Linked DNA regions of Homo sapiens: all the other regions are reported to be linked to region 1. The links are microRNA targets in miRTarBase. Many come from high-throughput screens and were not tested one by one. Region 1 holds a microRNA gene; each other region holds the end of a gene's coding sequence.
What was found. The annotated mature microRNA hsa-miR-548i reads AAAAGUAAUUGCGGAUUUUGCC and lies in region 1 at 3,390-3,411, opposite strand. An mRNA with a match to its seed (bases 2 to 7 or 8) in the 3' UTR can be bound and repressed. Matches are read on the target gene's strand: a 7mer-m8 pairs with bases 2 to 8, a 7mer-A1 pairs with bases 2 to 7 and ends in A, and an 8mer does both.

Region 2: miRTarBase lists EFNA5 as a target of hsa-miR-548i. Seed matches in the 3' UTR shown: 7mer-A1 at 2,265-2,271.
Region 3: the mRNA of MTMR6 is a reported target of hsa-miR-548i. Seed matches in the 3' UTR shown: 7mer-m8 at 2,828-2,834 and 7mer-m8 at 3,549-3,555.
Region 4: miRTarBase lists AQP3 as a target of hsa-miR-548i. Seed matches in the 3' UTR shown: 7mer-m8 at 1,461-1,467.
Region 5: miRTarBase lists TTC13 as a target of hsa-miR-548i. Seed matches in the 3' UTR shown: 7mer-m8 at 4,090-4,096 and 7mer-m8 at 4,039-4,045.
Region 6: the mRNA of SMAD5 is a reported target of hsa-miR-548i. Seed matches in the 3' UTR shown: 8mer at 4,187-4,194, 8mer at 3,724-3,731 and 7mer-m8 at 3,450-3,456.

Annotation. Positions count from the first base shown.
Region 1 is chr3:125,787,104-125,792,303 of GRCh38, forward strand. It overlaps MIR548I1 (microRNA 548i-1), which reads right to left and starts at 3,449; the gene lies at 3,301-3,449. The region is part of intron 3 of LOC112267908 (translation initiation factor IF-2-like); the gene reads left to right. The region is part of intron 1 of LOC105374312 (a long non-coding RNA gene); the gene reads left to right. It also overlaps the pseudogene RPS24P9.
Region 2 is chr5:107,377,136-107,382,135 of GRCh38, reverse strand. It overlaps EFNA5 (ephrin A5), which reads left to right. Exons shown (of 5, transcript NM_001962.3): 5 at 760-5,000. The coding sequence ends at 881. Among named protein-coding and RNA genes, the nearest start is that of EFNA5, 290 kb to the left of the region's middle.
Region 3 is chr13:25,244,902-25,250,101 of GRCh38, reverse strand. It overlaps MTMR6 (myotubularin related protein 6), which reads left to right. Exons shown (of 14, transcript NM_004685.5): 14 at 610-3,880. The coding sequence ends at 870. Among named protein-coding and RNA genes, the nearest start is that of MTMR6, 40 kb to the left of the region's middle.
Region 4 is chr9:33,437,463-33,442,662 of GRCh38, reverse strand. It overlaps AQP3 (aquaporin 3 (Gill blood group)), which reads left to right. Exons shown (of 6, transcript NM_004925.5): 5 at 145-362; 6 at 452-1,503. The coding sequence ends at 620. Among named protein-coding and RNA genes, the nearest start is that of AQP3, 7.5 kb to the left of the region's middle. RefSeq lists a silencer at 3,745-3,983.
Region 5 is chr1:230,902,715-230,907,914 of GRCh38, forward strand. It overlaps TTC13 (tetratricopeptide repeat domain 13), which reads right to left. Exons shown (of 23, transcript NM_024525.5): 23 at 3,529-4,305. The coding sequence ends at 4,191. Among named protein-coding and RNA genes, the nearest start is that of C1orf198, 37 kb to the left of the region's middle.
Region 6 is chr5:136,176,750-136,181,949 of GRCh38, reverse strand. It overlaps SMAD5 (SMAD family member 5), which reads right to left. Exons shown (of 8, transcript NM_005903.7): 8 at 1-4,613. The coding sequence ends at 4,470. Among named protein-coding and RNA genes, the nearest start is that of SMIM32, 14 kb to the left of the region's middle.

The DNA of each region.
Region 1 (5,200 bases):
TGTTGTGTTTTAAAAAATTTAATACAGAAAAGGCTGGGCATAGTGGCTCATGCCTGTAATCCTAGCACTTTGGGAGGCCAAGGCGGGTGGATCATTTGAGGTCAGGAGTTCAAGACCAGCCTGGCCAAAAGGTGAAACCCCATCTCTACTAAAAATATAAAAATTAGCCAGGCAGTGGTGGTGCGTTCCTGTAATCCCAGCTACGGGGGAGGCTGAGGCAGAAGAATCGCTTAAGCCTGGGAAGCAGAGGTTTGGTGAGCTGAGATCGTACCACTGCACTCCAATGTGGGTGATGATTGTTTAACCACCACCAAAAGGGATTCTGAGTCCAAATATTAATATGAAGGACATTGGTGACATTGTCTCAAAAAATTAATACCGAAAAGTACAAAAAGGGAGAGAAATCACCCCAAATCTCATGACCCCAAGAAATAAACCTCCATAATATTAAGTGAACAGCATTCCTTGCTATGCACAAAGATGGCTAGAGACATGAACAGATACTTCTGATCACACAAAATGAGATTTTAAAAACAAGAAGTAGCAAATTGAATGCTGTGTAAATTTATCAGAAGAAAAAGAAATGGAAGTGAAACTGAACGAACTGGTCAACTCAGATAAATGTAGTTTTTCCTCACTAAAAATCAGTTTCTAGAACATCTAAGAAATCAAAGATGATGAAAAATATTAAGATGTATTATATATATGTAGAAGTCTTTACAGTTGACTGATCATCTCATGAAAAATTTGTACAGTCACTGCAAATAAAGTCATTGCAAAATCTTTACTCCTTTTGCTTTTTGCCAGCACTGACATTGGCCTTTGCAGTCTCTTGACTTCATTCTGCCCTTGCATTCCTTTTGCTGTTTTTTTGAGGTCATCTTCTTCTCATGCCAGCCGTGTCTTGCAAGTCTATGTTTGAGTTCATTTTTCTTTGCATAATTCAAAGAACCAGATAACATGCCAAAACCCATTGTTTAACCACCACCAAAATGGGTTCTGAGTCCGACTATTAAGATGACACCCATTGTGGTCTTGTACATTTTGTTGCCTTCCTGGGGTGAAGGACATTGATGACCATTTGTTTCCTCTGTAGCAGTCGATTGGTCACGAACTTCCTGGTCCCGATAGTTACTGTGTCATTCATCATGGTGGTTGATCCTCAGGTAGTTAGGGAGGAAAATAAAAAAGAAGTTATATATTTGAAACCACGTTTCAATTTTAGACCTGATTAATTGGCTTAATAAAGGGCATTAGCACTTCTACTTCCTACAGTCCCTCCCTTTACCTCTGGAAACTAGTTATTTCTAGGTTGTTTTATGTTGTTAAGGTTGACCACCTTTTCTTTCTGTTCTGCAATAGTAGTCCTATTTTTAAATGGATTCACCTCTCATCACTAGCCTTTTGTCATGGTCATTCAATTCACAAGTTGCTTATTTTGTAATTTCTTGGCTGACTAAATTTTATTATGAAGACTTTTTTTTTTTAAAGAGCTCAGAAATACTGTATTCTTTAAGTTCTTGAACATGTGATAGTGTCTTTTGCCTATTTTGATTGGGCAATAATTTACCTGGCTATAAAATTCTTGGATTATACTCTATTTCCCTTAGAAATTATAGGCACCCATCCACTGACATTTCATTGTGTTTCTTTTTTTTTTGAGATGGAGTCTTGCTCTATCACCCAGGCTTGAGTGCAGTGGTGCAATCTCGGCTCACTGCAAACTCTGCCTCCCGGGTTCACAGCATTTTCCTGCCTCAGCCTCCCGAGTACATGGGACTACAGGTGCCTGCCTCCATGCCTGGCTAACTTTTTTGTATTTTTAGTACAGACGGGGTTTCACTATGTTAGCCAGGATGGTCTCGATCTCCTGACCTCGTGATCTGCCGGCCTTGGCCTCCCAAAGTGCTGGGATTACAGGTGAGCCACTGTATGAGCCCAGCCTCATTGTGTTTTGTACTAACCCCCTTTCCCTGGCCTCTTCCAGCTTGTCTTCTTCTCTTCTAGTAGTTTCTTCGTGAAGAGGCCATGTGCTATATTCCATGAGATATTTCACACTCAAAGAAGACTTCTTTTATACTCTTCTGATAATTTGTCTGGGAATCATTGTCTTGATTTATAAGGGAGTTTGTAATAAATACAGTAAAAGAGAAACACACAACGTATTTTGAGATATCAGAGAAGGGAGAAACCAATTCTATTAATATTTGGGGTTTGCAGGGAAGGCTTAGTTAAGAGGTAACATTTGAACTAAGCCTTGAAATAAGGGAAGGATTTGGACATGCAGTAATGGGGAGAGAGTAGAAGCAAGACATGATGGTTAGTGTTATGTATCAATTTGACTGGGTTGTGGGGTGCCTAGATATTTGGCTACACACTATTCTGGGTGTGTCTCTGAGGTATTCTGGATGAGGATAATGTTTAATTGGTAGACTGAATAAAGCAGATTGTCCTCCCCAATATGGGTGAGCCTCATCCAATCCACTGAAGACCTGAACAAAACAAAAAGGTAGAGTCACAGAGAATTTGCTCTTTTTACCTGATTATATTTGAGCTGGGACATCAATCTTCTCCTGACTTTAGATGTGGACTCGAGTTGGAACTATATCATTGGCTGTCCTGGGTCTCCAGCTTGCTGGCTGCAGACTCCAGGACTCCTTAGCCTCCATAACCATGTGAGCCATCCCTTACAACAAAACAATCTGTCTCTCTCTATGTGTATAGCTCTACCTCTATCTCTCTGCTCTTTCTCTGGAGAACCTAGAGTAATACACAAGGTTATATTAGAGAAGAGGATGATCCAAGGAAAAGCATGGAGGTGGAAAAGTGCAAAGAGCATTTGGGAAGACTGGGGTCCTGATGGGGAGTTTGGATTTCACTGTGTGTAGCATAGAGAATCCTTGAAAATATTCAAGAGGTGAAAATTGTATTTGTGGAAGAACACCAGGAGTATGTGAAAAGAAAAACACTCACTCCGTTTTAACTCCACCGAAGTGGGCATCAAAGGGATGCACTGGGGACATGGGTTGGAGGGTAGTTGAGGCCATATCTGGAGGATCTTTACTTCTAGGCTGAGTCTGAAGTTATCTTTCTGGGGAGTGGGGGATTACAAATCTTTGAGCTCCACTCAAGAGATGGTTTTGCTAACAATGGCAGGGCGACGGTGGTGGTGGTGGGAAACTGGTATCATGAATTCTAACTGGGCTTCTGTTATTCTAGCCAAGAAAGTTGGGGAATGGATTTTCAGTAGAATAATACAGATCTGGGAATCAACTGCATGGAGGAGGTAGTTATAGGTGATGAGATGGCTCAGGGACAAAGTTTGGTAGAAGGAGAAAAGATACTAGGCTGGTACAAAAATAATTGCTATTTTTGCCATTACTTTTAATGGCAAAATCCGCAATTACTTTTGCACCAACCTAATAGGGTGCAAACTTCAGAGCCATCTGCATCAGAGGGATTGATGAAGATCAACAAAGTTTGGGAACACAGGAAAGGAGCGGGGAGGGTAATGACTTGAGGGCATAGCAGGGATAATCAAGGTTTTTCTTGTTAGCATGTGGAGACTTTAGCATGATTATATGTTAAACGCCTGGCACATACATGGTGCAAAATATTTATGAGTGAAATGACAAGTGAAGGTGGTGAGTCATGGGAGTTCCAAGGAAACGGGTGATAAAGGGAGGTCTCAAATGAGGCACAAGTGGAGAAGGTAGCTTGGGAAAGGAGAAGGATGCTTCTCCTTATAAGATGGGAAAGGCAGAGGAAGAGGGTCAAGATACAGTGATCTAGGGGTGAGATGGAAGTGAGTTGAGAGAACTCAACTCTGGGCCCTGAAACCCCTAGGGATGGGTTTGGGGGACTTTGAGATATGGAAGAGGTTTAAAGTCAATTGTTATAGCAAATATGGTTCGGAATTTATTTGTAATGCTTAAAAATATTGCTGAACAGAAGTGAAGTCTACCCTAGAGTTGGATGGTGAGATTATTTAGTGGAACTACCAGATCCATGTTGTGATTCTTTCCAGTATCATTCAGCAGCCCTTGGGCAGTTGCAAGGCAAGTCATCAGTGGGGTATGGAAATTTTCCAGGTGGGTGTGGTTGAAAGCAGGGAAGAAAGAGTTTAGGAGCACATTACAGGAAGGTGACTGTAAGGTCCAGGCTGAGCAGGAAAGTAAAGCAAGAAGGAAACATGAGGTTGTGAAGAGAAGTCTAGAGGGATGAGGAGGCAGGAGTGGTGAACAGTTGCAGGATGTAGCTAGAGTGGCGATGTTAGATCTTGGGGCCAGAGAGCTTTACAATGATTATGAAGATCAAAGGACATCAGAATCAAGCTATAAAGAGCCACTGTTTGATGGGATGTGAGGATGCTGCAGGTGGATATCTGCACATTGATGGTGAGAGTATGGTCACCCTGGCCCTGCTGGGTCTTTGCTAAAGAGACTGTGCTCTGTTCTTGGGGCCGTTTTCATCACCTGATTAGAGCAGTGGTCCCCAAATGGTGTTCTTTGGACCATCTGTACAAAATGTTCATAGGTCAAGTATAAAATGGAAAAACAGAGAAAATGTCACAGAAATGTGTCCATTGGTGAAAGACCACCAGCTGTCCTTTTTGGAGGATTGTTCTGTATTCTAAAAATGTATATATTCTATTCTATTAAAACATTTTTGTATTTGCATTTTTTCTCTTTTATGAAATGCCATGGGGTAGAAATTTGTAATGTATCCAATTCTCCTGTCTTCATGCATTGCCCTGTGGTGGGGGAGGGGATGTGGCTAGCACTGGCCAAGAGGCTGGGGGCAGAGGTGCAGTGTGAGACTTCTAGCCTGGGTCATTTAATTCTTAGTACAAGACTCTCTAGCATTCTTCTCCCTCTGTTCCCTGCTTGGTGATACTCGAGGTAATGCAACCCCCATTAGCCTTAGTCTTAGGGCAGGTTTGATGGAAAACAGAGCATCCCATACCTCCCTGCAGATGTAGCATGAGTGAGAAAAACAACTTCTGATGTTTGAAGTTACCAAGATTTAGGAGTTGTTTGTTATTGCAGCAAAACCTCACCTATTCTGACCAATCATGTTGGAATTTCTGTGTGTGTGTGTGTGTGAAACTGGTAGTTTAAAAAATTTCCTTCTTACCAAAAAGAAAAAAAAATTGCAACCTTATGTTGGTTCTCAAATTAAAAAAATATTTTTACTGGTT
Region 2 (5,000 bases), not on the chromosome of region 1:
CTTAATCTATTTTATTTAGAGGAAAATTTGCATCCACGCTGATAATTTATGTGCCAAGCTTCAGCCCGATAAAAATAAAAATAGTCAAGTTCAAGTAATTTAATCTTAGAAATACAGGGTTTGTAATAGAAATAGCACCATAATTGACACCTAATTGCAGGCAAACTAGTGGGCATACGTTTATTGAAGTTTACTAGGCATGATGTATAGTTTATCCAAAATGCTGCTGTTTTGGCATTTAGTTTTTCATGTTTGAAAATTCGTCTAGGCATCCAACAACCAGGCATTCAACACTAATCCTATGAAACAGCTAAAAGAAGGGAAATGGGCAGCGCATTCTGGTTAACCACTACTGTGCCAACATAACTGCCCCTTCCCCCACCCCCACCAACATGTCACTTGCTTGCCTGTGACATCTTAGGTTTCAAAGGTACATTCAGATATCTGAAATTTGTGCAAGGCGTGTCTGACTGCTGGCTAACCAAAGCAGCTCACAGGCCAAAGGTTACGGTGTATGCATAATTTTTCCCCTCAATTTTTAAGGAAAGTATTAATATTGCTGAGAAAGTCCAATTTTCTTTGCCTCTTCTTTGTTTGCTGTAAATAATGAGTGATTATGCAGACATGAAAGTCAATGGTGGCACAAGGTTCATTACCCTACTTTGCAGAGGGTGGCGAGGTCTGTTAACAGCAGGCTGCTGCAAGAGAGTTATTAAGGATGTGAAATCTCATTGGAATGTGTGCTTTCTATTTGAACAGATGACACCGTACATGAGTCAGCCGAGCCATCCCGCGGCGAGAACGCGGCACAAACACCAAGGATACCCAGCCGCCTTTTGGCAATCCTACTGTTCCTCCTGGCGATGCTTTTGACATTATAGCACAGTCTCCTCCCATCACTTGTCACAGAAAACATCAGGGTCTTGGAACACCAGAGATCCACCTAACTGCTCATCCTAAGAAGGGACTTGTTATTGGGTTTTGGCAGATGTCAGATTTTTGTTTTCTTTCTTTCAGCCTGAATTCTAAGCAACAACTTCAGGTTGGGGGCCTAAACTTGTTCCTGCCTCCCTCACCCCACCCCGCCCCACCCCCAGCCCTGGCCCTTGGCTTCTCTCACCCCTCCCAAATTAAATGGACTCCAGATGAAAATGCCAAATTGTCATAGTGACACCAGTGGTTCGTCAGCTCCTGTGCATTCTCCTCTAAGAACTCACCTCCGTTAGCGCACTGTGTCAGCGGGCTATGGACAAGGAAGAATAGTGGCAGATGCAGCCAGCGCTGGCTAGGGCTGGGAGGGTTTTGCTCTCCTATGCAATATTTATGCCTTCTCATTCAGAACTGTAAGATGATCGCGCAGGGCATCATGTCACCATGTCAGGTCCGGAGGGGAGGTATTAAGAATAGATACGATATTACACCATTTCCTATAGGAGTATGTAAATGAACAGGCTTCTAAAAGGTTGAGACACTGGTTTTTTTTTTTAATATGACTGTCTTAAAGCATTCTTGACAGCAAAACTTGTGCTCTCTAAAAGAAGCCTTTTTTTTTTTTCTAGGAGGCAGGTTGGGTGTGGAATGCTAATACAGAGCAGGTGTGAAAACAGAGAAAACTACAGGTTTGCTGGGGGTGTGTATGTGTGAGTGCCTCTAATTTTTTTGGTGACTGGGCAGTGCACACCAGATATTTTTTCTTTGAATACAGATCACCATGGTGCTACAACTTTTTTTTTTTTTTTTTTTTTTTTTTTTTTTTTTTTTAAGAAACTCAAAGAGGCATTTTTATGAATAAAGTGACCTTCCCCAAGGCTGACAAGCCAGGGTTGATGAGTGCATAGTGGAATAGCTTTGGATACTCCTCTGGGGGATGACATGTACCAAGGAGAGGACCGCAGTGGCCAGAGGAGACATGATTTGGCTTTGCTGGAGCGCCAGTGTGCTGTGGCCTTTCCCCGCCTCCCACCCTAGTACCCACGTTTTGCTCCACACTCCTTGACCGCAGGGGCTCGGACACAAACCCCTGTCACCAGGAGAGTCAGTCAGCACTACTTGGGAGGGCTAAAGGGAAATTTGGAAATAAAATTCCAAAGTTTGGAGTAAAAAAATTCAAGTGTTGATTTTATATTCTTTCCCTTTCTGACACAGCCTAAAGCGTAGGGGGAACATGTGTTTATCTGTGGGAGATAAACAAGATGGAGTCCCAAAGACTTTAACAAAATATTTTTTTAAAAATCCACTAGAATAGAAAATACATTATTTAGATATACTTTATGCTGAGAGTGAGTATATATGCTTGTCCTATTTAAACTTGTGAGAAAAAGTGGTATCCCTTGATACATTTAGAAATATGGGGGCTATCTTGTTTCATTGTGGGGGTGGGGCAGAAGGAGAATAAATGCAGGATGACCCTGTTGAAGGAATCTTAGCATGGCCAACAGGGGACGTTTCCAGTCGATTACCAGGAAATGCAAGCCTTGGGGTTTCTACTGGTGGTGGGGCTGTCATGAACTTTAAAATCCAAAGCCTAGACAAGGAAAAGTGTTAGACCAATTGAAAAGCAATCCAGCCCTTTTTTTTTTTTTTTTTTTGGCTTTGCACGACATGTCAACAGAAACCATGCCTTTCAATATAAGAAATAAATGTGATGATCATGTAAAATGTGAAAAATTGAAAGCATTCCAGCAAAATAAGAATTTTTTATATATTTGTTTTTTAAGATGTATATGTTAAAAAAAGAGAAGGTCGCATTATGGACAGACTTCGTGAATGGGAATTTGCTTAGAATTGTGAGTAGTTCTGAATTAGAAAAGTATGTGAAGGAAAGGCAGCTGTAAACGTATTGTGCCCTGGAGAGTTGTACACATGTTGAAATGTAATCTGGGCTTACCTGATCCATTTGGAGTGGATGTCACTGCCGAGTCTGTTCTCACATGGAACCATGTGTGTGGGGTTGCCAGCCTCACAGATACAATCAATCCTATTCCCCTCTGACATAAGGAACTCCTCTGGAGTGGCAGAGTCTTATCACAGAAGGCAGCCACCATTTCACCAAAACAAAAGTTCACGGCATTCAATTCCTTTTTCCTTTAGCTATTTATATATGCAGTACTCTCAGTCATATGCAGAAATACTTTTTTTTTTTTAATTAATAGTTACAGGCTTGTTGGTCCAGTGGGATTTGGGTAGGGGGAGAAAGATACCTTCTAAAATGGATCAATAGAACCAAAATAATACAGCATGTTCTATAACCACAAGGAAATCAAATGATCCTGTCATGATTCCAGTTAGTCATAACTATGTTAGCAGTGCTAAATGCATTTTAGAAATGGTGACTTCTGTGGTTTTCCTAGCATTTGTCTCTAACAAATGGTGAAATAATTACTCATGGCCCTCTCTGCCATTGTCTTTCATTTTTTCACAGTGAAATTAGACCCCTTTACTTCACCATTCTGCCACTGCAAATTAAGTATAAAGAAAATAGCAAGAGTGTCCACACCAGTAGACAGTAAGCTTCTCTACCTGTAAGTGATGAAATCATAGCTAATGCACTTGCCATGGAGTTTTCAAGATGATTGGTGTCAGACAGTTTTCACTTTGTTTAAAAAGTGTTGGTGGCCTTTTGTGGTGGTGTTACAATCCTCTGGGGGCTTAGGAGGATGTTGATGCAACTTTTAGAAGCTTTTAATTTCAAAAACAACTCAAAAATCTGAAGGACAGTCATAGCTGCCACTCAGCCCCAGTTAGTCAAACCCCAGTGACCTTTGCCCCTGGTTGCCAAGGGCTTTGCAACATCAAGCAGGGAAATAAGGATCTGTCTGTTTAGTGGATACCGTGTATCCTTTAATAGACCAGGTAACAGTTCGTGTTAGTTTAGACTATTGTTTTGTACTGTACTTTCTTGGGTGGCAGAGGAAAGAAAAGTAAAACATTAAAAAAAAAAAAAAAACTGCGTTCTTTAAATTCTGTATTATTAGCAACCTCTGTTGTACATAGTGTTTGATAATAAAGTATTAATTTGATTCTTATGTCTTTTGTAAGTGAGAACAATAGACTTTCAGGATACAAAACATGCATTGAGGCTTTGAAACATCCAATGTGTACCATGGCTGAAAAAAAGAGTCACAAGTGGCTGAGACACTGCTCCATACAGGACTCATGTGTGGTCATTGCCCACCCAATCTTATGACTCCATCATCTTGGGACCTGGAACAACATGACTTTTTTGATCGATATTTTGTCCTCGGTGTTTTCAAGGTCTGATGTTGGAGCCCTGTGGCCCACCCTCCCTTCTCCACCAGCATGTTGGTTTGAAAAGGATAGGGAATTTAGAAACAGTTCTGTACTTTGGTTTGGTTTGGTTTTCTGTTTGTGATTGTTTTCATGGACTGTTTTATTTTTTCCCAGGAAGAGTCTTTATCAATATCATGTGCAGCTCACTCATGGAAATGGTTGCAAACCAATCAGTGTAGGAAGCTTAAATGGGGCTGTTTCCCTCTCTGTGTCGTTGTGAAAGGAAGAGTCACACAGTACCTGTGGATTTTCAGGGACTCTGTTTTTCTCCGGTGCCTTAGCAACGGCAGCAGCCATTTGTATTATTTTCAAATAATTAGAAAAACAGTTTTCAACTCCTCCTTTCCATTCATTGCTCTCAGAGTTGTGGTCACTGACTTTTCTTTTGAAAACCGCCTCCACCAACACCCCCGTTTGCCTACACCACCCCCCTTTTACTTAGTATGTTTATTTTTTGTGTGTCTCTTGCCTTCCTCCCACGTTTTATTTCCCCTCAGAGCTGTGAATGGGCAGGTCTGTCTCTGGTTTGGCATCACTGAGTTTTTCCCATGCATTGGCCCCAGGGCTGCTAGGATGTGAGACAAATCTCCCTACAATGGGCTTGCTCCCATTGTCTGTACAGTTTAATAGATGCTGGCATGTCGGAGGTTACCCATGAGTCAAAATCCGCTCTCCATGCTTACTCTTGACACCCCATTGAAGCCACTCAT
Region 3 (5,200 bases), not on the chromosome of region 1:
AGTAAATTGTAGAAGGATATGGTCAAGAGAGGCAAGTCCAGGATAATAGGTAATACAAGATTATCGGGACAGTCCAAGAATTTGGAGAGCATGATACTCTGCCACAGGACACTTTAAAAATCTTCTGTTAAAAAAGTAAAGTTCTGTTGTGTTTAAAGTCTGTTATTTTTACCTAACAAACCACTGTAGGAAAACCATGTAAGAAAAACTCTATATAGTCAGTGAGCCCTTTAGCTACACAAGTTTGTTTGTTGTGTTTTCAGGGTGAATGTTTCATACACATTTCTTTTATTATAAATGTTTACCTGTTATGCTTTCTAGGTAATATATGTCCATTTTAAGTGTGGAAGCCTAGTGATCGCCTGCAGTCAAGTCTTGCTGGATTGTTTGTTTAATAAATATAAAAACTAACAATTTTCCACAGCAAAAAATTGTACACAATTAGGATTTTCAACCATGTCATATGCATTAAATGTTTCTACTTTTTTGAGATTTAGTTTTGCATTATACATACAGAGAACATATTTTGCAAAAGCATGTTTTCTTTTTTCATGTAACATATTGTGGCTTATGCAATTAGTAATTTTTTCAAATTTGTGTTTGTTCTAGAAAATTAAACAACGCAAAAATAAGCAAACAGATGGCATCCTCACCAAGGAATTGTTACATTCAGTTCATCCTGAATCACCTAACCTCAAAACTTCCCTGTGTTTTAAAGAGCAGACTCTGCTACCCGTAAATGATGCTCTTCGAACTATAGAGGGCAGCAGCCCGGCAGATAATCGTTATAGTGAATATGCAGAAGAGTTTTCTAAATCAGAACCTGCTGTGGTCAGCTTAGAGTATGGTGTGGCAAGAATGACTTGTTAGACTCATAGAGTTTTTTCTGCAATGATTGCAGTACAAGAAAAGGATTATTGTGAGGATGGTCTGTAAGCATAACCAAAAGGAATTTGTCTAATAACAATTTTAGGGTTTAACAGTAGGCTAATAGTTGAAGGAAGGATAATAACTACCCTTGTGAGAGAAATAAGTCATTTTAATTGCATTTCCAGCAAGGAATGACATTCAGTTCTGTAAGAAATGAGTGGTATTTGATGTATTTACTCAAAACACAATTTGCACTGTACACTAGTGAATTGACGTTTATGATTTATGTTAATTCAGCCAAACATAAATAACCTTCCTTAAGTACAATTTAACTTCAAGAAAACAAAATTTGACAACATAGTTTCTTAATAAATGATATGGCATGTACTTTCAATTATGTAGCTTTGTAACTATGAATATTTACATATTTTGCCTTTTAGTGATATTTAATGTTAAAGTGCCATGAAAAATATTTCTAAGAAAGCCTTAAATTCCCAGTGGATTCTTTACCCTTAAGTTTTACAGCCTACAACAAGATTTTTTGTTTTGTTTTTCTTCTGGTCAGCCTTGTTTTGTTTGTAAAGAATTGTGCTCTCATTACTGCTGGGGGTGCATGCTACAATACTTCTATATAAACACTTGTAGAAGTACACTGTTCACGTTTAGCCTGCCCCACTTTTGTATTCAAAATTAATGAAACTGAAGGTTTATTCTGATCATAATTTGTTTAGTGCTACATTTGATAATTTATTATTTACAGCTTAGAATATTGATTTCTTGAATACGTATAAGCACATTTGACTGTCTTTTATATATGGATTACTGCATTCCATTGATTCTTATTTTGTGGTTGGCTTTATTTCTTTCACAACTGTGTAAGTTTAAAGAGCTAAAGCTCTAAAACTGTTCTGAGAAACAATGAATAGTACATGTATATGTATATTTTTAAACTGCCTTATTGCTCAATGAGTTGCTGTTCCTGGAGTATCTAACTTTCAGTTTACTCAAAAACTTTTGGGTAAATAAAAAAGGGAAGTACAGATAGTTTAGGTTGTGCATGGTTGCATGAATTTTGAAGTCATTTCTATGTGGAGCATTATTTTTCTTCTTGTTAAATATAGAAAAAAAAAGAGATTCTAGTACAAAGTTACTGTTTAACAAAAGCAACATAAACTCTGGGAAAGATTTCATTTTGCCATGTTATATTTACTGTTTATTCTGTGTACTAGTACATATCTTTAAATTACCAAAAAACAAGAAACAAAACATAAAAACCCCAAAACTATCACTTGGAATTAGCAATATCACCCAACTGGCTTTAAAATTGAAAATTTAAATAACATGGTGGCATGAAGTACAATTCGAGTATTAGGCAATTTGCATAGTGTTCCTCATGCTACTTTCTGTTACACCTCTATTATATTAGTTTTGAATATAAACATCTTTTTCAGACCAAAAAAAACTTTATTGTATGAGAGCTTATCTTATCCTGTTTATTTTTCCAATGCTTTTCTGTAATACATTATGTAATTTAAAAAATATTCCTTTTTAAACAGCAACAGAAATGCACTATAAAATATAGTATGTGATTAACCAATCCTGCTTCCATATTTAAGCACTGGGAATGGAAACTTAATCTCTGTGACTACAAAGGGAAGTTTTTGTGCCTTGGTGTTCCAGTCACTGATTGTGGTTTTAGAATCTTCTGTGGCTGACTTCTTGTATTCAACTCTGGTTTATTATCTTAATCTTCAACTTCAGACATATATTTGTGTGTTTATATGCTCACAGGTGGACTGAGAAATCAGTTACATCTTAAGTGACCTACAGGGTATATGTTGGCAAAAGCAGACTGTGTATATGTCTTATAAAGTTGAATTTATGTTCAGTGTGTTTGGAAGTGTATAGCATGTAAATTACTTCATATATGATTTAAAGGTAATTAAATGTTCACATTTTACTTTGAATGTTTTTCTTCTGGATAAAACAAATGGAATCAAGTTGTAGTTGTTTTTTTTTTCTTCTCACCTAGGCAAGTAGACTTGCCCATTACATTAACATAACAGCATAAGGTTTGAGGAGTTTATTTTCCAAAAGTTTGTTGATAAATAATACCTGTTTCATACAAAAATAATTTCCAGAATATTTAAAATAGGTATAGTGGGCTAAAAGGCCCATCAGATGTAGGTAATAATGTCATTAAGTTTTCATTTTGTTCCTGTCACTTGCTTATATTACAATCACTATTTTTTTGTGCCCTTGCCAACTTGATGGAAGGCAGGGTCCATTGAGTACAAACATTCGAGGTGAAATGTCTCTCCAAAGGCAGATCTGGATGTAAATATGAGGAAGAAAATAACTGGCTGACAAGAGGATAATTTTATTGAGGGTGTTTTGAAAAGGTCAGCTAGGCTAGAAGTAGCTCAGGGAATCTTGAGTAAAGATGAAGGGAACTCTTTTAAAACAAATTCAATTTATTTGGTCGGGTAGCAGAGCAGGGAGGTGGTGTCAGTCAAGCCTGTTTTGAAACATTTTTTGCAGAAGGTCAGCTTTAAAATATTGAAAAATTTCCAGTTGACATGCTAAGTTGGATTAAATGCTGATCATTTATAAAACTATATAGTTGCTGCAAAAGTAATTGGGGCTTTTGCCATTGAAAGTGATGACAAAAACCGCAATTACTTTTGCACCAACCTAATACTACAGTTGCAGACTTTTATTAGTGACGCTGATCTTCATTAGTCAAGTTTTAGTTATTTTGTTGGCTTTTCCATGTAGAATTCCAAGTGACATTAACATACTTTGATTAATTAAAGAAAATTTGGAGACTGTTTAAGATATATGTCTAGATATCAATGTAAACTATAAGCTTTAGGAACTTACATCTAGAAGAAAGCCTGGAATCTAGAATAATTATCTCAAAAAAAAGTATATATACCATTGTACTTGATATAAGAAAATGTAAACATGAAACCTTGACATTTTAATAAACAGTATTTGTGCTACTCTAGTTATTTCTAGGAAAGTAAAATATCCATTTAAATGGCAACTTTTATAAAATAGTGGCCTGCATAACTGAAAGGAACTTTCAGAAGCTAGTAGTAGACTCTATAGCCCTGGTGTTCAGTTTCTGATTCAGTAGTTAGGGGTTGGGACTCTGGAGTTAAAATCATTTGCATACCAATAAATTGTTTGCACTTAGCAATATTTTGGATATTGTGATGCAAATGGTTGGGGAATCATACTTTGAGAAACACTGCTGTAAACCACCCATCATGGTCAGTAAACATCTTGTTTGTTCTTAAAGGGATGCCGAATTATTCTTTTTTTTTTTTTTTTTTTTTTTTTTTTGAGACGGAGTTTCACTCTTGTTTCCCAGGACAGAGTTAAAGTGGCACAATCTTGTCTCACCACAACCTCCGCCTCTGGGTTCAAGTGATTCTCCTGCCTCAGCCTCCGGAGTAGCTGGGATAACAGGCATGCACCACCACACCGGGCTAATTTTGTTGTTTTAGTAGAGACGGGGTTTCTCCATGTTAGTCAGGGTGGTCTCAAACTCCTGACCTCAGGTGATCCACTGGCTTTGGCCTCCCAAAGTGCTGGGATTACAGGCGTGAGCCACCACGCCCCACCTCAGAATTACTCTTGTATAAAGAGCAACAGGCTAGGGAGCATCACACTTCTGAAACATTGTGATACAAGTGGGAGTGAGAAATAAACCTTTGTTTTAAGCCACTGAGAATTTGGGCTCTTTGTTACTGTGGTGTAAGCGTGCCCCTCCTGAGGGATGAAACCATTTGTACAAATTTCTGTTTTTCCATTAGTTCCCAAATGGCCTTTGTCCTGCTATTTTGCGTCAGTAGCCAGCTGAGGTTTGTGCATTGCATTTGGTTGTAGCTCATCAGTCTCTGTGTTGAACAGCCGGTCACCTCTTCCCCTCTGCATTGACCTTTTGCACCAGACCAGTTGTAGTTTTCCCACTTTCTGCTTTTGTCTGATTGTTTCTTCGTGGTGTAATTTAACTTGTTCCTCTGTCTACTGTACCTGCTGTCAAGTAGGTACTAGATGAAATTCAGAGTTAGCATTTCAGGAAAGATGCTGTGTACTTAATATTGAATTACTGCGGGAGGATATAATGCCAGGTGGTTCCATTGTTAGTGACGCTAAATTTAATCACTTGGTTATCTTTTCATTGTAAAGATACATTTTTTCCCTTTGAACTCAGCAAATGCTCTATGGGGTGATATTTTGGCATCAAATTGAATATCCCTTTCCTTAACAACCTATCCATTAATTATACTTGCCCAAATCAGTTATTTCTTTGGTGTTA
Region 4 (5,200 bases), not on the chromosome of region 1:
GACATTCTAGCACCATTGCTTTCAGGAGAAGAGCATGGGCGGGCGCTGACAAGAGTTTAAGAGCTAGAGGGAAGACGGGGGATGGAAGGAGGGGTCAGAGAAAGGGAGGGAGCTGCAGCTCACCCTGTTCTCCCCACTCCCCAGTTCATAGGCACAGCCTCCCTTATCGTGTGTGTGCTGGCCATTGTTGACCCCTACAACAACCCCGTCCCCCGAGGCCTGGAGGCCTTCACCGTGGGCCTGGTGGTCCTGGTCATTGGCACCTCCATGGGCTTCAACTCCGGCTATGCCGTCAACCCTGCCCGGGACTTTGGCCCCCGCCTTTTTACAGCCCTTGCGGGCTGGGGCTCTGCAGTCTTCACGTGAGTACAGCCCCCACCCAGCTCACCCCAGCCTGCCTCTCCTCTGCCCTGCCCCCCATGTCCCTGACTATGAGTGTCTGTCCCCCCAGGACCGGCCAGCATTGGTGGTGGGTGCCCATCGTGTCCCCACTCCTGGGCTCCATTGCGGGTGTCTTCGTGTACCAGCTGATGATCGGCTGCCACCTGGAGCAGCCCCCACCCTCCAACGAGGAAGAGAATGTGAAGCTGGCCCATGTGAAGCACAAGGAGCAGATCTGAGTGGGCAGGGGCCATCTCCCCACTCCGCTGCCCTGGCCTTGAGCATCCACTGACTGTCCAAGGGCCACTCCCAAGAAGCCCCCTTCACGATCCACCCTTTCAGGCTAAGGAGCTCCCTATCTACCCTCACCCCACGAGACAGCCCCTTCAGGATTTCCACTGGACCTTGCCCAAATAGCACCTTAGGCCACTGCCCCTAAGCTGGGGTGGAACCGGAATTTGGGTCAATACATCCTTTTGTCTCCCAAGGGAAGAGAATGGGCAGCAGGTATGTGTGTGTGTGCATGTGTGTGCATGTGTGTGCATGTGTGTGCAGGGGTGTGTGTGTGTGGGGGGGGTTCCCAGATATTCAGGGCAAGGGACCAGTCGGAAGGGATTCTGGCTATTGGGGGAGCCCAGAGACAGGGGAAGGCAGCCTGTCCATCTGTGCATAAGGAGAGGAAAGTTCCAGGGTGTGTATGTTTCAGGGGCTTCACATGGAGGAGCTGCAGATAGATATGTGTTTCTGTGTATGTGTATGTCTGCCTTTTTTTCTAAGTGGGGGCTTCTACAGGCTTTTGGGAAGTAGGGTGGATGTGGGTAGGGCTGGGAGGAGGGGGCCACAGCTTAGGTTTGGAGCTCTGGATGTACATACATAAGTAGGAGCAGTGGGACGTGTTTCTGTCATAATGCAGGCATGAAGGGTGGAGTGAAGTCAGGTCATAAGTTTCATGTTTGCTTTTGTTTTGTTTTGTTTTTAATGTATGTAGCAGATGTTACAGTCTTAGGGATCCGGGATGGGAGACCCCACTTTAGAAAGGGTCGTCACTCCTTTAATCCTCTACTCAACAATGTACTCTTTTACTTTTATATTAAAAAAAATAAAATAAATATGTGCCTAAAACCTCCAGTTGTGCAAATATCTTTCTGCTTGCTCTGCTGCTTTTCTGGGGCCAGTTAAGGAGCTTCCGCATGCCCACACTGACCCAGGGTGCCCGGCTGAGTGTCTGATCTGGTCAGGTTACCCTGGGGGTCATACAGAGAGGTTAGAGAGCCTCTTCACCAAGGCTCTCAGTTTGAACTCAGTGGTCCCAAACTTTCCCCCAAGTTTCCGTCCTCATGGGTACCCCCAGCATAATGAATGGAATCTTCTTCCCAATCCCTGTACCCACACATCACCCCAGAAAGGCTTGAGCCCTATGCAGGGAAGATCTTGCTGCAGAGCTACCCAATGGGGAGAACTGCTGCCCAGGAGGTGGTGAGTTCCCTGTTCCTGGAGGAGACCCATCAGACTGGGAACCTGTATTGTCCTCCACAACCTGCAGCTATTCAGGCTCCATAACCTCCACCCAGACCTTGGCCACAGCCCCCCTGGCAGCCTCCCTGCCTCCAGGCCTGCCCCAGTCAGTCCACAAAGCAACCAGAGGGATCTCTTCAAAACCTCTGCTGAAAGTGCCCATCTGGAGACCATCCACAATGCTCCATCTGGCGTTCAGGACCTCCAGGTAGGGTCAGGAGCCTACCCCTCCTCTCACATGGCTCCATCCACCTCAGCCTACTTTATGTGTTTCTGTGTTTTTGTGTCTTCAGACTTTGCTCCAAAGTCCCAACTCACATCTTTGCTCATTAAAGTCCTCATGATCTGCTTTAACGCCTCTTCCTCCGGGAAGCCATCCCTGCTCTGCCTCACTCTTCCAGCAACTTCTAGTCAGCTGTCTTAAGTGCCAAGACCCGCAGTTGCGTTCACGCTCATCTCCCCTTCTGCTTCATTTCTTCAGTCATTTCTTCACTTCTACAGAGGCACCTCTGTGCCCAGTAAGGCAGGGGGTTGGAAGACTGACTCTGGCGCTCTGACTTGCCCAGAAAAGCAACGGGCTCGGCACACCTGAGAACAGGAAGCTTTTCTCATTTGCTTCTTCCTTACCATACCCTCCTCAAGTTTCATCAAGGGAAACTTCATGCAATACAAGGGAAGGCATCCCCTACCCAATCCCTCCTCTGAGCGAACCCCATGGGAGCCAGAGGATCCCTGGGTGTGGCAGGCGAATTGTGGTTTTTAGAAGCTAAGCCAGCTTTTGCTCTCCAGCCTTCACAGATGAGATCATGGTCCAGAGAGGGCGGGTGGCAAACACAGGGTCACACAGCCAAGAATCTGCCTACGGAGGTGAGGGCAGGAGAAGGCAATACCATTTTAGGTTTCTATCCCTTCTTTGTCCCCAGCTCCCAAGAGGCGTGTCTGGAATGCTGGAGGGACCTGAGCCAGAGGGAGTGTCCCCTTCCCAGGCCCTGGGGGGAGGAAGGGCAAACCTTGGGAGGGGAATACGGCTGCAGAGGGTCATTCCAGCCACACCAGTCCCACCTGGGCTGCCCTCACCTTGCTGTCCTCCCCAGCATGCCCCATGTCCTTCTGTCACCCATTTCTCTCAAATCCTGCTGCTGACCCTGACCAGTCAGCCTAGGGGGTGTTGGCAGCACTTTTGGTGCTGCCACCTGGCCCAGCAAGGATTCTCTAGCTGGGTGACCTTGGGGTAGTCATGTTCTTTTCCTGAACCTCCCTTATCTGTGAATTGGGAGATATTGAGAGGAGGAAATAATGGAAGATGATTCATGGAAAGGACTTAACACAGTGATTAGCAGATGGTAAATCCTCAATAAATGTCACCTCATGATTTTTCCTGCAGAACCAGAGATGGGGGTGGGGAGGCAGTGGAGGGAGGATGCTAAAGGCTGTTTTTTTTAAAGGTCATTGAATTCAATATCCTCTTCCTCCTCAGATTCCTTCCATGGATTCTGAATTTCCCGAGAAAGGGGAGGGAGGAAGTGTGAGGGCGATAGCGTGCTGTGTCCTGACTTCAGAAGGCTCTTGGGAGAGATGGAGGGGAGACAAGAGGGGCTCACACACAGGATGCAGGGCAAAGAAGCACGTGGCCGCAACCAAGGGAACGTGTTGCCTGGAGGGTCAGGCCATGTGAGAGAGGGTAAGGCCCGGCCAGGACCAGGAGCAGTGGGTCAGGGCAGGGGCTGAAAGGGACATGAGCCAGGCAGCAGCTGTGTCACCCCTCCAGGGGTAGAAGGGAAGCTCCCCACCTCCTCACCCCACCTCCAGGTGTACCTTCCACCAGCAGTTCTGGCTGTCAGAAAGTTCTAGCAAAACAACTCTTCATCTCCTTTAGGAAGGTGTCTTCTCCCGGCCGGGCACGGTGGCTCACACCTGTAATCCCAGCACTTTGGGAGGCCGAGGCGGGCGGATCACGAGGTCAGGAGATCGAGACCATCCTGGCTAACACGGTGAAACCCTGTCTCTACTAAAAAATACAAAAAACTAGCTGGGCGTGGCAGCGGGTGCCTGTGGTTCCAGCTACTCGGGAGGCTGAGGCAGGAGAATGGCATAAACCCAGGAGGCGGAGCTTGCAGTGAGCCGAGATCGCACCACTGCACTCTAGCCTGGGCGACAGAGCAAGACTCCGTCTCAAAAAAAAAAAAAAAAAGCCGGGCGCAGTGGCTGACGCTTGTAATCCCAGCACTTTGGGAGGCCGAGGCGGGCGGATCATGAGGTCAGGAGTTCGAGACCAGCGCGGCCAACATAGTGAAACCCCATCTCCACTAAAAATACAAAAATTAGCTGGGCGTGGTGACACACGCTTGTAGTCCCAGCTACTTGGGAGGCTGAGGTGGGAGAACCGCTTGAACCCAGGAGGCAGAAGTTGCAGTGACCTGAGACCATGCCATTGCACTCCAGCCTGGGTGACAGAGTGAGACTCTGTCTAAAAAAAAAAAAAAAGGAAGTTATCTTCTCCCATTCCATGTAATCCATTTTCTGGTGAGGACATGAAGGGAGAATTGCATCCCCTATCTCACCTCTGTCCCTTCTTCCTGTGCTGAGCCATCTCCACAGCCCACTTTGGAGGAGCTCATGTTTCCTTAAAATTCAGATCTGCTTGGGTTAAAATCAGTCTCTGTGAAACTTGAGCTTGGTTCCTGTTTCTTAGTGTGCCTGCCTCAGTGTGTGTGTGCACCCAAGCAAATGCACTTAGTGTTTCTGGTTGTGCCTTTCTTTCAATGTATCTGGTTATGTCTCTGTGGGTCCAAACCTCTGGCAGACCATGTCTCTGTCTCTTTCCGAGTATCTCTTACTGCCTGACTCTTTGTGTCTGGGTCTTTCTTTTATTATTATTATTATTATTATTTTTGAGATGGAGTTTCACTCTTGTCATCCAGGCTGGAGTGCAATGGTGTGATCTCAGCTCACTGCAACCTCTGCCTCCTGGGTTGAAGCAATTCTCCTGCCTCAGCCTCCCGAGTAGCTGGGATTACAAGCACATGCCACCACGCCCAGCTAATTTTTGTATTTTTAGTAGAGACAGGGTTTCACCGTGTTGCCCAGGCTGGTGTCGAACTCCTGACCTCAGGTGATCCACCTGCCTTGGCCACCCAAAGTGCTGGGATTACAGGCATGAACCACAGTGCCCAGCCTTGTGTCTGGGTCTTTCTTTGTGTACCTCTGAGTGAACATCCTGGACTGTGACCCTCAGATCACATCTCTGCATGTTCCTCTGAGCCCCTCTCTCAGTGTACTTTGAGTACACCTCCATGTACTCAGT
Region 5 (5,200 bases), not on the chromosome of region 1:
CGGACCCGAGCGGGCAGAGGTCAATCAACAGTAGACGCTGTACCCACTGAGGCTTGCTGCCCTAGCACAGGGAGCATGAGCTAAACCTCAGTGCGGAGGATCTGGGCAAAGGCCCGAGGGTGGCCAAGACGCCTGGCTCAGGAAATCAGACTGTCCCCCGAAGGGCGAAGGCAAGGAGGCTGGGAACTTAAACAAGGCAATTCAAAACTGCACGTCTGTGTCACCTTGAATGGGCACAAGTTAAACTCTTTATTGGAGCTTGTGAACCAAGTTGTGTTCAACTAAGCTGCCTGTGTTCAAGACTTAATTACATATATATGTGTATATCCAACTTAAAATGTTACAAATATATTTATTGACATATAATTCATTATGTGTTAATTGAAAAAAGTAAATTTTAAAAATTAAGCACAGTGTAGTGTGATCTCATTTTGTATATCCAACTTTCTGTAGACTAGTTTAACTGGTAAAATTTATGTTTACAACATATAAAACTAAAGGGATTCTATATTTATGGGAACATAGTTTGAAGCAAAAAGGGCTACTGTAAATCTAATCACAGCTCTAATATTCAAGAACATACTTGTTTTCATGATATTCTAGTTTGATGTTTCTCAGGTGTGGTTCCCAGACCACTTCTGTGTGAAGCACGTGAGGTTTAGGTGAAGATGGAGATCCCGGGCCTAACCACAGACACCTTGGATCAGAAAACAGAAGGAAACGTTTCAAGCCAGTCTAGAAGTGTTTTTTCTTTCTTTCTCTAATTTGTGCCCCCATGCTGCCACCAAACACTGTGGTTTTGACCCTAAAACCTCCTGGACCCTTGCTTAAGACCACCGGGATGCGCAGTGTGTTGGGTTGGGGGGATAGCAGTGTGTTTGCTTTCAGGATAGCAGTGCTGCTCAGTGGGATGTTCTGTGATGATGGGGCTGTCCCATGTCTGCTCTGTCCAATGTGATAGCTGCTAGCCACATGTGGCTACTGAGCACTTGAAAGGCAGCTAGGGAGACAGAAACAAGCGTTCGATTTAGTTTAATATTGATTAGTTTAGCTTTAAGTAGCTTGGGCTTGGGGGTAACAATGGAGATGGTAAGACATGAATGGATCTGGGATCTTCTTAGAGGTAAACAGGATCGGACTGGATGGTGATCATTTGAAAACTGCAGGAGGGCAGTGTAGACTCTGGAGGCTGCCTGGGTGTCTGGCTGAAGCTGCTGAGTGAAAAGGGAACCATTTCTGACACAGAGAAGCGTGGGGAGAAACAGACTTTGGGTGAAGGAATGATGGGCTCCATTACAGACATCTTAAGATGTATTCATGAACACTCAGATTTTGCTGGTCTGGGACACAGTGGGTTTCTTTAGGTGATTTTGCTGGTCTCTCTTTCTGAGGCATATCAATTTTATTCCATATTTCCAAATTATCAGAGAGTAATGATCACAGAGTTGGAGGTCAGTTTCCTGTCCCTCATACAGTTTCTATACCAAAGAAATTCCACACTAAAGTTCTTAATGTACTAGCAAATTTTGCTCTAGATTTTTTAAAGTTAGTTTTTTTTTTTTTTTTTTTTGAGGCGGAGTCTCGCTCTGTCGCCCAGGCTGGAGTGCAGTGGCGGGATCTCGGCTCACTGCAAGCTCCGCCTCCCGGGTTCACGCCATTCTCCTGCCTCAGCCTCCCAAGTAGCTGGGACTACAGGCACCCGCCACTACGCCCGGCTAATTTTTTTGTATTTTTAGTACAGACGGGGTTTCACCGTTTTAGCCGGGATGGTCTCGATCTCCTTACCTCGTGATCCGCCCGCCTCGGCCTCCCAAAGTGCTGGGATTACAGGCGTGAGCCACCGCGCCCGGCCTTTAAAGTTAGTTTTTTAAAAGTCTGAACATCTTGATCCACAGGAGCAATTTTATCGATAGAACTGTGATACCGAGGTAATAAGAAAGCTATATCTGATCTCTGCCCTCCAGTTCCTGGCACAGAGCTCGTAAAACTCTTGGTATTTTCTGAGTGATCGGGATGAGAAGTGTTTTTTGTTATTAATAAGCACCTTCCAACCATATCTGAATTTATGCTGATGAGATGACTCTTGGAGGATGGGGGTTGGGGGCCAGAGAAACTAACCATGTGATTAGAGGAACTTTCAGTCCTAACCCCCAGCCTCCAGAGAGAAAAGAGGGGCTGAGAATTGACCTAATTGGCAATGATTTAATCAACCATGCCTATGCAATGGAACCCCCATAAAAACCCTAAGTGAAAAGGTTTGGGGGTTTTTGGTTGGTGAACACTTCCAGGTGGGGGGACGGTGGTGGGCCTGGAGAGCGCACGGAAGCTCCATGCTGCCCCCCCATACCTTGCCCTGTGCACCTCTTCCATTTGGCTGTTCATGTGTATCCGATATAACAAATCAGTAATAGTAAGTAAAGGGTGTCCCTGAATTGTGTGAGCCATTCTTGCAAATTATCAAACATGAGGAGGGAGGGTGTGATGGGAACCCCCGAGTTATAGCCAATCAGTCAGAAGTACAGGAGGCCCTGACTTGCAACTGGCATCTGAAAAGGGGGCAGTCTTGTGAGACTGAGCCCTTAACCTCTGGGGTCTGTGTTAACTCCAGGAAGTTAGTGTCAGATGTGAATTGCAGGATCCCTCCCCACTCCAGCTGATATATGGAAAGCTGCATAATTGGTTGCTATGCGGGGAAAACTCCATATATCTGGTATGGGAACTCTTGCGAATAAAAACAGATCATAGTAAGAGCTTAGCTACTCAGGCAAGTCTATAACCACAAATTCAAAATGATATTAACTTACACTGGGAGACCACCATTCTGGATTATTTCTGTGGAAAAACCTTTAAAGTCTCACTAGGAACTCTGTAGGCTGCATGGGCCAATATAATAACCACTAGCTACATGCAGCTATTTGAATTTAAGTTAATTAAAACTAAATGTGAAACTCAGCTCCTCAGGCATACTAGTCCTGTTTCAAGTGCTCAGTAGCCACATGAGGTTACTGACTACCATACTGGCAGCACACAGAACATTCTGGAATGTCATCACAGAATTTCTATCGGACAGTGTCAAGCTAACTGTAAGGTTCTCAAGAAAGGAAAAGGCTAGGGGAGTTGATGGTGCAAACAAAGGACAGTGTGGGGAGTAAGAGATTCAATCAGAGAAACACAGCCACGTCAGCTAGGCTACAGCAGGAGACTGCGTTTCATTTTAGGACAAAAGGAGGCTGTGGGGTTTAAACCGAGCAGCAGCAGGAATATGAGTCAGGAGACTCCGGAAGTGGTCCAAGAGAAATTACAATGGACAGGGAGAAGTGGCCAAGCAAAGAGATGGGTGTGCATCCTGTAGAAGGGAGAGAAGAGCAAGCTTGCTAATGGATGGTGCCATTTGGAAACAGCAACAGTTTTAATTAACTCATTTTACTCACTGTCATTTACCCTGTCTGGGAAAAAAAACAAGAGAGACTTTCTGAATGTTCTTATACCTGAAAGTGAAACTGGTTCACAAAATAAACACATACATAATCCAATGCCAAAAACTGGTGATTTATAGAAATCACCCTGGTTTATTTTTTTCAACAAAGGAAAAAAAAACATGGTTCAATAATTCAGCATTTGGGACTCTGGCAAGTACTGTCTGCATTGTTCAAAATAAGTGTTCCTGGCTGTGAGCTCTGCAACACATACTGATGGCCCAGGAACCTTCTTCCATGGTTCTAATAAAACAAAGGACCCACACATGGAGGTTACGTGAGTCAACAAAAGATGCTCTATCACAATGTGCGTAAAAAGCAAGTCTTTGAAAAATATCCAGATCTCTAAAGGAATACAAACACTCCTATTTGGTTTTGTTTTTGTTCATCTTCAGTATTATATTTTAGTTGTTGAGGAAAATTTTTTTTACTGTAAGGAAGGAGTTATATGACTTTATAAGTGGGAACCAACAGGCTGCCGGCTAATACATACGCTTTCCCTCCAAGTCAAGTAGCTTTTTCCCCCCGAAAGCCTCTTTCATGATTTTCATTATGGTTCAGAAAAGTAAAGAAAATGATTTCAAGTATTCAATTCCTATAAAAATTGGTATCAAAAGTAATAGAGGACCTAATTTCTTTATAATTCCATGTTTTAAAAAATAACTTAAGAAGCAAGAGGTCCGGCCCTTTACTTGTATAAATACAGCAGCAGAACTAGAGTTTCTTAAGACAACGTGGAGAAGAGTCTGTGTTTAGCACCTCAATCATCGATCTTAACGTTGGAAACGTTTCTGATACTGATGGAAGAGTCTTATAAGAAGGTGAAATACTGAAAAAGAAAAACACAAAGTAGCGGCATGAAAATTAACAAAATTTGCAAAAAAAGGGCAGAGCTTATATTTATTCCTATCATTATATTTATTATATTCATGTTGTAATATCAAACAGTGTTAGAAAGGCAGGGAGGAGCTGTGAACAGAATGGCTCCTCTCACAACAACGGCCTGCGGCATCAGCCAACACGTTACAAGTCGCTTGGAAGTTAAGCCAGAGCTTTGAAAAAGAAAATTAAACTCTGATTTACATGTCCAGCTGTGGTGCATGCTGGGCTTGGAATCAAAAGACACAGGTTTCAGGTCCAGCTTCACTCCTTATTAGCTTTCTTTACTTCTCTAGGCTGCACTTCCCTGATCTGTCACAGGGACAGTGTTCTTAACTCGCAAAGTTACCATGAGCTCTGAATGAGATAAGGTATTTCAAGGTACGCTGTAAAGCGTTAACTGCAGGATGTAAGGTAGCATTGTTATTCTTTCCTTAAAGAATTGTCAAAAGATTCACACTGTACAATTATGTAAGAATAGAAGCAAGACCTTCGGCCTGGTGGTTGTATTACTAAAACATGTGCAAACTAATAAGCCTGAAACAACAATGTACCAGGACAAGGTGTAACTGTTAGAAGCTTTCATTGCAAAGCTAAATTACAAATTGAGCAATGGTAGACTACAGGCACAAATATTTCTGTTTTAAACAGAACATAAATTACCCAGCAATAGAGTGGTTGCTATGTCAAATAGACGTGAAAGGCAAAACTGGGGGTGGTTGGGATGTAAAAAACCAGGAGAAGGGGCAAAAATAACTAAAGTTGAACAGTGAGGCTTACTTATTCTTCATTAACTACTGAGGCATCTATGAGTTTAATTTCACACACTTCAAATTCACACAGTC
Region 6 (5,200 bases), not on the chromosome of region 1:
AATAACTTATCACCTGTTTTACTGCAGTTGCTACTAGCAATTATTATATAGCATGTGCTCTTCAAAACAGAAATAAAAATTGATGTGTGAAATCCCTTTCATTGGTTTTGGTAAACCATCCAATTTTGGGCTGTCATTTCAATTATAATACAGTTGTATTTTAAGAGAGAAGATAATCCAATATAACAAAGGCTTGATAAATATTGTCACTCTGTAATCAGGACATACTAAACTGTAATTCAGCGAATTCCAAAGAACTTTCCAGGTTTCTGTCCAGCAGGTAGAATTCTTTGTTTATGCAGAAGAAATGCCTTCAATTCTCACATTCGATTCAGGCATCTTGTGTGATAAGAAAAGCTCCTAAGAATCTTACTTATATCAATGAGAAAAATGCTGCTGCTCTGGGAGACCTGAGATTACTCCCCAAAAAGCTGCCCTAATAATATCTGATACCACCTATAAACCACCACTTAGGAAAACTCTCTCCATAAAAATCACCAAACACTTCTAAAACCACCAGGCTACCTACTACCCTAAGATACTTGCTCATCTAGCTGAACAATATAACGATGACACACATTTATATTCATACCCAAGAGATTAGGTGAGGATTTAACTAGTAAGACAAAGAAGGGATCTGACATTCTTTAAAGTTAAAATGTAAGTCCAAAATATAAGTCATCACAAAAGGCTGAACTCAGTAATTATCAAAAAATTCTTCCTTCCTCATGAAGTAAAAAGGATATTTATATATTTTAAGTGGCAAAGGTGATAATCATCCAAAGTACTATTAAGCAATTGATTAGAAAAAGTATAAAGAAATAGATCTAAATTGGTACATCAGATGTTCTCTATCACAGAAGTACAGCACTTTGATAGGTACTATCAAACTTTTTAGAGTTTCTCTGCTGTTGGAAGAATTTCATTTTTTGTATAAACATTCTCTTCCAACAAAATACTACCACACAGGGGAAGGAACTGTTCCCCACAGGTACCCTCAGGTAATATGGAAGGTTTTTAACATGAACCCCAGTTCTAATCTTGACAACAGATTTCAGGTATGAGTACTTAATAATCACTTCACATCCTGAAGGATATCTTACTCTCAAATGTTATGAAAGGTATAAAATAGCTACATCCTCTATCTGTGCCATTAGATGTGGCTTGTTGAACTGTCTAGTACTCTTACTCTGGATTTCACCTCAGAAACCCAACCAATTCTATTATTTTTTTTATATAGCAACAATACAATGTGAAAAATTATTTATATTCTGACACACATATTTGACATTTTGATTGACGTCTTCCTTAAATCTCCTCTTAAAAAGAGGGTTAGTTTTAGCAGATCAATAACACGCCTACTAGTTTACATTTCACGTCAGCCAGGCAATACTGACCAGACCAATACTGACCAGACCATAAATATTATGTAGAAATGTTAAGCAAATGAATCTCTTATATCTTGCTTTTTGCCAATCAATATCTTTTTGTTGCTTTAATTCATTACTGAGATTTCATTCTATTCTGCTGTTTGCATTACCAAACTGGTTGCAATTTTATTATTCCCAGATTCTGTCTTTTCAGCCAGCATAAATATATTGTACATGCTATGTGATTATTCTAGTGGTGCTAGAATTTTACTATAAAACATTCTGTAGATTAAATTAAAACATATAACCATAATTTGCTAAAATGGTTTCTTTCAGAGGTACTTTCCTTTCACTAGCCAGTTTTTAAAAATCTTACTAGCAAATTTTATCTCCTATACATAGATATATGAAAATCCTTAGGGACTGTAAGAATAGCTGGACTGAATAAAATTTTCATTTAAAGTCCAAGGGTGGGGAGTTGACAACTTTTAGGAGATACAACAGGCTTATAGTTCTCTGTCAAACTCTTAGTTGTTAATAGCTTTAGTACTGTCATTCATGAGACACAACTCCTAAGAGAAAACAAAGAAAAGGCCAATCACGTAAGATCTTGTTAACTCAAGACTGTGACATAATGACCCCAAATAAAAACAATTTTTAATTAACTCACAGTAGAAAACACCAATAAAACAACTCTCTAATTTCCACTAGTTTACTGCAGCCCAATGAAGTTGATTACATACATCAGTCATTCAATTGGAGTAATTTTTTCCTACAAATTTGTTCCAGAGATCATGCCATAAGCCTGGTTAAGTAAAAGAATGATGAAAATGCCAAAGTTCTATCAAGTAAGCAAATATTCTCTTTCGTGTGGCAGACAGAACTCTGGAAGAAACAGAATGCATGTCATGTAATACTTACATTTAAGGCTCAGGTGACTGTCAGAAAGTATTTCTTTTACCCAGCAAAGAACTGTGAGCTGAAACACAAATGGCAGTTCATCTGAAAGAACTAAAACCATCCACTGGCTGCACATTGAAAAAGCAATAAATAATGACACAGAAAACAAAAGAAATTGCATAATTCTTTCCTCGAAAATGCTTTTTTTTTTCTTCACAAGAGCAGAAAGGACAAAGTGGAAAGTCAAACCAAACTAACATTTTAAACAGAAGAATGATATGACTCCATATACTTTCAAAAGGCACCAGAAAATAAAGCTTTCACTGATAGGTAAATTAGGTCATTTTTTTTTTCCAAAATAATTTCTTCATTCTCATGTCATAATTAAGTGTCCATTTGACAGCTCCTGAGAAAAAAACTGGTTCAAAGTTCTTTATCCAAAGCCAAAAACATGATTGATTAAATGGATATTTTGGAGTTCGTTCATGTCTTTTCTCTCTAAAGATTGTGTTTTGGGAGACTAGCTTCCACATAAGTACTTAAAAAATGGAAAAAGAGGATCATCGATAAATGAGAGAAGAGTCTATATTCGTTGATGGGTGAGTGTTTTGTTTTGTTTTGTTTTTTGAGGCAGAGTCTCGCTCTGTCGCCCAGGCTGGAGTGCAGTGGTGCGATCTCGGCTCACCACAACCTCCGCCTCCCAGGTTCAAGTGATTCTTCTGCCTCAGCTTCCCGAGTAGCTGGGACTTCAGGCACGCACCACCATGCCCAGCTAATTTTTGTATTTTTTGTAGAGACAGGGTTTCACCATATTGGCCAGGCTGGTCTCAAACTCCTGACATCATGATCTGCCTGCCTCAGCCTCCCAAAGTGCTGGGATTACAGGTGTGAGCCACTGTGCCCAGCCGAGTGTTTTAAAATCAGCTATCCCTACATCCACTGCTGATTCATTTAGTATCAAATCAGTAGCCTTATCCTTGGGGCCCAACTGAAGAGCCTCCTACGGCTCCAGTGCATAGGTCCTTGCGTAGGGAGGCTGATACAAGTAAGCTGACACTTGTAAGAGCAATGGGATTAACTACATGATTCTCCAGCACTGATAACACCCATAAAACTGTAGGGAATTAAAAAGGCACCTTAAGTTGGAGCTATAGAATAACAGTCTTATAACCTAGGTTGAAAGTAAAACAAAAACCAGAAAAAAGCATAACTTCCTACAAATGTAATCTATAAATTGCAGTGTTTGTTAATACAAAAAAGGTACCAAGGACGTAAGGATAAGCATCTAAGTCCAAGTCACTTGAGTGTATTTTATCAAAGGTTATGCTAAAAACTGTCACCCATAAAAGTGCAAAATAAAAGATTAATGCATGTCAAAAATAGAGTTCTTGCAACATTGTCCAAAAGCAGCAAACATAGTTGAACAAGGCTGTGCATGCACTGTCACTAGCTATAAAGTAATGCTTATGACAGATTTTGAGTAAATGACATATACTTGAGATCAGTTATTTGCAAAAATTTTTTTAAAAAAGGAAATGTCTTACAAAAGATATATAGCATGAAGTCACATTACACTGAAGAACACTTATCTGTATTAAATGTAAATTTTATGTCATCTAGAAAACTATCATTTTGCTTTTACTGAACACTACCAGTTACAGCAGTGCATAGTGTTCATTCAAATAAAACTTTATAGTTTCTTTTAAGCCCCTACCATACACTTTTGCAAAACAATGAATTGTACTTTTTTTTTTTAAGTTGGTGGGACAAAGAAACTGGTAAAAGTACAGCTTCTGGAAGATCGAGAGTAGGAGGGAAAACTTACTCTTCACTGTATATGCCCTCTTATAAGCTACTATAATTTTTCATCATGTGATGCATTTTCAAATAAATTTAATAAAAAATTGTTAGGGCAATAAAGTAAAAGCATGTTCCAGTTTAAGATCAATGCCAAATTTCTGAACTGGGGCATAATACTTACTCTGCATCTTTTACAACACTTCTAAGAGTTAATCACATGAACATGAATACAAACAAATGTAGATTCATCACAAAATACAAATGTATTGGTCACAATTATGTAGAAAAAAATAAGCTGTAATATCTGTTTTCAATGTAAGCTCACAGTATCTGTACTCAAAGTTTCTCTAAAATTAAAACAAGTCCACTAACAATATAATTGAAAAGAATACTTCTGCATTATGAAACAGAAGATATGGGGTTCAGAGGGGAGCCCATCTGAGTAAGGACTTTATCCAGCCACTGAAGAGGCCCATGAAGATGAATCTCAATCCAACATGGGGTGCTGGTTACATCCTGCCGGTGATATTCTGCTCCCCAACCCTATGAAAATGAACAGATATCATCACAAATCCCTCTTTAAACTGTCAACCACTCTAAACCAATTTTACCATAAGAAAAAGATAGCTTTTAACAGTAGAGATATGTAGAAGTTACATAAAGAGAATAACTATCACAAAACCAGTCTTAGTATTCACCATGAAATTAAAAGACAACAGCTACATTATTTAAAGATTCATGAATTCTAAAATAATATATAATTCCCTTAAAAGAAACCCTTAGAGCCAGTTATAGTTCATAATTTTTTTTAATCTTAGAAAGGTAACACAGTACAGTATCTCATAATTAAAACAAATATTTCTGATCTGAGATACATTCTCCCTTAATGGGATAAATGCAAAATAGAAAATCACCACTAGAACACCACAGTAATAATTACTGTAGACAAGATATATTGAAGAATGCAAAAATTGTGGGTAAAATATAAAGGAGAAACAGTGTATTTACATAGCCCCAAAGAATCTGCCTGCAAATATTTATAAATACCATTTTCTCTTAATTTCTTTGTAAGACTTAATGACTATTTAAAGGAAAAATTTTAACTGTATTATAAGATATAATGTGCAGAT